Regions from separate parts of the Homo sapiens genome. Here region 2 is linked to region 1. The links come from fine-mapping of genetic effects on gene expression. A gene starts in region 1. The other region holds a variant in brackets. All regions are shown on one strand. Distances are between the middles of the regions. Region 1 holds the start of RAD18 (RAD18 E3 ubiquitin protein ligase). Region 2 holds the start of LOC107984112 (a long non-coding RNA gene).

Region 1 (2,917 bases):
TTTGGCCCCAGGACTAACAAGTACTGCCTCCTTCCAAATCTGTCTCCATGGTTGAATGCAAAAAGTACATTCCTGTCCCTGTCTTTTCTCTCTCTCCCTTTCTCCTTACCCATTCTTTCTCTTTTTTCTCATCTCCTCTCTCTTCCTCTCTCACCTTCCCAGCCATTTGTCACCTTAAACCTAATTACCTTGTCCAACTAGTAGTGTGAAAAAAACAATTACTGGTTCACTCAGGCCACGGACCTGGTCTTAAATGCTTTTCCTTTGTCTCTCCAAGACCCCACTTCCTCCACATCCAGAACTATCCGACATTTTCCAGCTCAGCCTGGCATTCATTTGCGTTCATTTGCATGCCGTTCTATGATTGGCTGATACAAAGTGGGGGGCGGGGGTGGACACCGTAAACCTCCATTCCTCATGCATTTAATATAACATGTATGAAAAAAAGTATCTATATTTATATCTCGTTTAAGAAAAAAATTGTTCAATGATACTTGTTAAAGCACAATAAGGAAGACTTAATCAGGACAATTCAAGTAGGTATAGAGACCACTGGAACTGTGTCTTGCAATTGGTGAAAACTGGGCTCAACTCTGAATACAACATGGGCAAATGGAAATTTATAGCCAGGAAGCAGGGTGGGGAGCAGTGCATGAAAAATTACTAAGAGGAAACATCAGAGGTAACAGTAGATTCTTGCTGAAGAGGCCAGGGTGATCAGACATCAACTGGGGGATGGTGGAGGATGAGGAACACATCAGATATCAAGAGTGATCACATATCAAAGGTGGGGATTCTTGGTAACTTGATTTAGCAGGGTTTTTTGCTAAAACTGGATTTTTACAGGAAGTACACAGATTGGCCTAGGAGAAGGTTCAGGAGCCTGACTAAAGTTTGCTCAAGCAAAGAATCTTCGTCAATCTGCATAGGAAATATCTAGAAGGCTATATGCCAAAGTTAATGGTGCTTCTCTCCGAAGAAAAAGAAAAACCGTGCATTAAAATTTTAATATGAATAAAAGCAACAGCTCCCATTTAAAGCCCAGAGGTCCTGTTTGGAATCTGACTCGAAACTCTATCCACTTTTTCGGGCGTAGGCTTCTCTTGTGTAAACTGACAATGATAACATCTACCTCCCAGTGTTGTGATACGGGAGACATAAAGTAATGGATATAAAAACTTCTGTTCAGAGCAAGGACGGATAGTCACTGCGATTAGGGTGGGCGACCCGGAGGGGGGTCATGAGCCTGGACCTTGACAGATCTGGTGAGGTCTGGATTTGGTTTGATTCCTGGCTATCTTTTCTTAATATTCAACTGGCTCTACGCTTTTTAACCATTCACTTTCTTCAAGGTAAGTGCGGCAGAAGCCTGGCGCATGCGCAGTACAAGCCCTTAAGCGGCGCCCCGCCCACATACTACTACAACTTCCGGCAGGCTCCGCGCCCGCCTCTGGCGCGTCGCGGGCTGCTGACGTAATGCGGTAGCGCGGGGAATTTCGAGTGGTGTTGGAGCGCCGGAGGCTAGTGGGTGGCTGACCCCCAGCATCCTCGGGAGCGACCATGGACTCCCTGGCCGAGTCTCGGTGGCCTCCGGGCCTGGCAGTCATGAAGGTGAGTGCTTCGGGGAGTTTGGGAGCTCCCGGGTGTCTGCGGGGGGAGGTCCCTCCCTTTGAGGAGGATGTCCTCGCCTTAAGGAGAAAGGATGAGGCGCGAGCGTCGCACTGGGCCCGGGTATCCGGCTCTGCCCTGCCACTAGCCGACCGCGTGGCTCTGGGTCTCAGTTTACTCCTCTGATAAGTGACAAGGACAAGCCTGGTGAGCTGAGGTTGGCAGTCTTATGGCACCAGCTATTCTGCGATCCAATCCCAACAATAACATGGAGAAAAACAGTTATTCCAAACAATGACATCGACAGCTGTTCTTTACTGAAAGCTTACTTTGTGTCAAGCACTAAACAGTGACACCGGACATGATTTTGGGTGGACACTTTATCAGATAACATGTATGTAATCACGTAGCCAAGCAGGTAGTCTCCTTTACAGGCTCTTTCATTTCTTCTGATTATTCTCAATAAACGTAGTGCTCGTTTGTTCTGACATACTGCCCCAACTCCTCTCTAACACACCTTCACTCTTCTCTAACAATTGCTCATGTCTCTTAAACAGAGATCAGGACTCAGGCTCAGCGCTGATCTTGCATTGCGTCTGATTATTTCACTTAAATAACATTTATTTTTGTGGCCACTTTCTGTTTTGGCAAGGCATACCAGTTTCCATTTACAGTAGTGGTGGGCCCTGGATTTGCTCAAGAGCAGATGCACTTTGCTGTGCTGGATAAAGATCAGTTGCTTGGTGTTTCTTCTTGCTCTGTGATTATTTCCGTTTCTCACAGTGGCTAAGATAGCCTTCTTCTCCCTCAGTTTTGTAGACTTGGGGATTATAATACCTGTCCCACTGACTCATAAATTTGACTTTAGAATTAAGTGAAGGCTAAAGTAAGTAGAAGGCCTTGTTCTTCCTGCTGTCATCAGTGACGTCTAGAGTGCTTGGGGACTTGAGATATCTGCATGATGAGAAGCTGACATTGTGAAATGATCCAGGAAAGCTGTAGTTTTGGAGTTGTGGGCTTGGCACCAGGATGCAGTGGAGAAGAGCACAGATTTGAGTTCCAGTGGTCCTGGGTGAAATCTCCTGTCTGCCTCTTGACTGTATGACCTTCGGTTAGTAACTTAACCTCTCTGAGCCTGAATTTCTTCAACTATAAATTAGAGACAAAAATAACAGTTCATAGGATTGATTAAATAAATTAGTTGATGTATGTGGGCACAGATTCTGCTGTGTATTCACTGTGCTTACTGCAGTGCCTGACACCAAGTGGGTGCTCAAATATTATTTGCTGCTTGATTGAAAGTATCTGG
Region 2 (2,917 bases), 100 kb after region 1:
TAGAGGAGGACCCTGGCCCATGTGGGCGTCTGAGGGAGGTGGACCACTGGACTGTGTGGGCGTCTGAGGGAGGTGGAAGGCAGCCCCCGCGTCCATTCTGTCCATGTTGGTAGCGCGGCTGTCCTAAGCCCAGAAATGAGATCTTTGCTCTACTTCCTCCGCAAGGGGTTGGTTAACTCATCTCAGGCTGGAGGGAACATGCCCACTTTGGAGGCAGGAGTCGCAGTGCCTTGCGGAAGTAGATTTGCTGAGGGAGAACTTAAGCGACTGTCACTCAGTCATTCAAGGCCTGAGCTTCCCCAGTCATAAAAGAAGGGTGAGTTGAGGGCTTCCTGGGTTCCTTTGAGGTCAGCCATCTAATGTCCTCATCTGGTCTAGCACTGCTCTAGGCTGGAGGCTGGGTAAAGGTGGTGGTCAGGGCCTCCAGAAGGGCTCTCTGAGCTGGAACCTGCTACAGGCTTCTCTGTTGCTAGCATCACTGGCTTCCTGTATGTGCCTCCCTTGTGAAATGAGAGCTGGGGTCCAGCCCAGTTTCCAGCTGCGAGGGCTCCTGGGAGTCTCTGAGTACACCATCACACATGGAAGAAGAGGAGCTCCCTCCCACTCGGCTGTCAGCCGGGAAGGGAACAGGCTCCAGGTGTTTCAGAGGCTAGACTGGAAACACGGTCTCTGAGGCTGGGCAGCTCAAAGGTGGGGAAGAGCCTCCTGAACCTTAAGAGAGATAAATAGTAGTGGGGCTGGGTCAATAAATTTAAATTAAAGTCTCGCACTGTTGCCCGGGCTGGAGTGCAATGGCGCGATCTCAGCTCACTGCAACCTCTGCCTCCCAGGTTCACACAATTCTCCTGCCTCAGCCTCCCGAGTATCTGAGATAACAGGCGCACACCACCACTCCCGGCTAATTTTTTTATTTTTAGTAGAAACAGGGTTTCACTATATTGGCCAGACTTGTCTCGAACTCCTGACCTCATGATCCACCTGCCTCGGTCTCCCAAAGTGCTGGGATTACAGGCGTGAGCCACCACGCCTGGCCCAATAATTTTTTATTGGGTGCCAGCCGTTGTGAATTTTACCTTGTCAGTAGCTGAATGTTTTGTATTCTTATAAATAATCTTGATCTTTGTTCTAGGGCATAGTTGAGTTATTCAGAAACAATTTGAATCTTTAGAGTCTTGTTTTTAAGATTTTTTGGAGTCTACAACAAGGATCAGTTTAGGGCTAATTATACCCCACCATGGAGGCATGACCTTCCCAAATACTCTACTGAGTGCCCAGTGAATGGTGAGTTTTTGCGGTCTGGCTGGTGGGAA[C/T]AGGCTGTGTCCAGCTGTGGGAATGACCAGTTTCCAGCTGTGTGTAAATACTAGACACTGTTACCTCTAATCCTTTCAAATGGTTCTTTTCCCTGCCTCCAGTAGTATTCCTACACATCCTAATAAGTATTCTCCTGAAGACCCAAGAGATACCTTCTGCTGGTCTCCAGGTTTTGCTTTCTCTGGGGAAATCTCCCCTCTGGTCTCTCTCCTATCTCTCTAGCTGCCACGGTCTCTCTGAACTCTAAGCTGCATTTCCTCAACAGAGTTTGCCAAGCTCTGCCTGGGTTCCCATCCCTAAGTCGTGACCTGGAGACTGTCTCAAGACAGTGGGCTGGGCAGTTGTAGGGCTGGCTCACCTTACTGGTTTCTTTTCTCTTAGGGATCTGTCCTTCCTTTCCTGATGACCAGTTTCTTGAAAATTTCTGTTGCACAAATTTTGAATAGTTTAAAAACTTTTTTTCCAGGTGGGAGAGTTTATTAGTCAGGGTTCTCCAGAGAAATGGAACAAATAGGATAGATGGATGGATGGATGCATAGATAGATAGATAGGTAGATGATAGACAGATAGATAGAGAGATAGATAGATAGACAGACAGACAGATAGATAGTTAGATGCTGAGATTCATTATAAGGAATTGGCTTGCTTGATTATGGGGGCTGAGAAGTCCCGTAATCTACCATTTGCAAGCTGGAGACTCAGGAAAGCTGGTGTTATAAATTCCAGGCTGAGCCTGAAGATCTGAGAACCAGGGGAGCTGATGATGTAAGTCCCAGGCCAAGGGCAGGAAAAGACCAATGTCTCAGCTCTCACCACTGGGTAGAGATAGAATTCAACTCTCCTCCACCCTTTTGTTGTATTTGAGGTCTGAACAGATTGGATGATGTCCACCCATACTGGGGAGAGCAATCTGCTTTACTCAGTTTACCAAGTCAAATGTTAATCTCTTCCAGAGACACCTTAACAGATACACCTAGAAATAATATGTAACCAGGTATCTGGCCCAGTAGAGTTGACACATAAAATGAACCTGCATGAATCTATCCTTTGTCAACTTGGCACCCATAAGCACCTCCTTAAACCATACTTAATCTCCAGATAAAGACAAGAACAAGTTCATAATTCCACCTAACGTGATGCAACTCTCCTGCATTCAATAAAAAATACACTAGCCCCTTTCCTAGAAATAAGGTAAAATCCTTGATATCTTTTTCCTTGATATTACCTAACTAAAAATACTATGATGTAAAATTAACAATGCTTAAATACTATGATATTTAGTCAAAATTTCTTACGTTGCATGCTAAGGGAATAAGAGAAGAAATAAAACAAAGCTATTTATATATAATTAATTAATATAAATAATAAATATAATGCACACATATTCATAACAAAGGAAGGAGGAAGTACTCATGATAATTACAATTCTTGTGTCTGTAACTGGTCACAGGGCCGTAGCAGGTATTTATAACTACCTTCTTCCACTACTCTCTCTGAATTCTCTTTGCCTTCAGCAAGCATCCCAGTTGGTCATATGTATTTACCTGGGAGAGTGACCCAACTCTTCATTCCTGAAGAATCTAGGCTGTTCATAGCCCTGCCTGGA

The links. PIP is the estimated chance that this variant, and not a neighbour inherited with it, causes the effect.
Region 2: its variant is the best candidate, but not a certain one, in a credible set for the expression of RAD18 in aorta (GTEx, PIP 0.59).

The regions. Positions count from the first base shown.
Region 1 is chr3:8,962,029-8,964,945 of GRCh38, reverse strand. It overlaps RAD18 (RAD18 E3 ubiquitin protein ligase), which reads left to right and starts at 1,474. Exons shown (of 13, transcript NM_020165.4): 1 at 1,474-1,611. The coding sequence starts at 1,561. RefSeq lists an enhancer at 1,457-1,626.
Region 2 is chr3:8,860,230-8,863,146 of GRCh38, reverse strand. LOC107984112 (a long non-coding RNA gene) reads left to right here and starts at 1,902. Exons shown (of 2, transcript XR_007095814.1): 1 at 1,902-2,917. The variant C/T (reference allele first, on the strand shown) is at 1,311.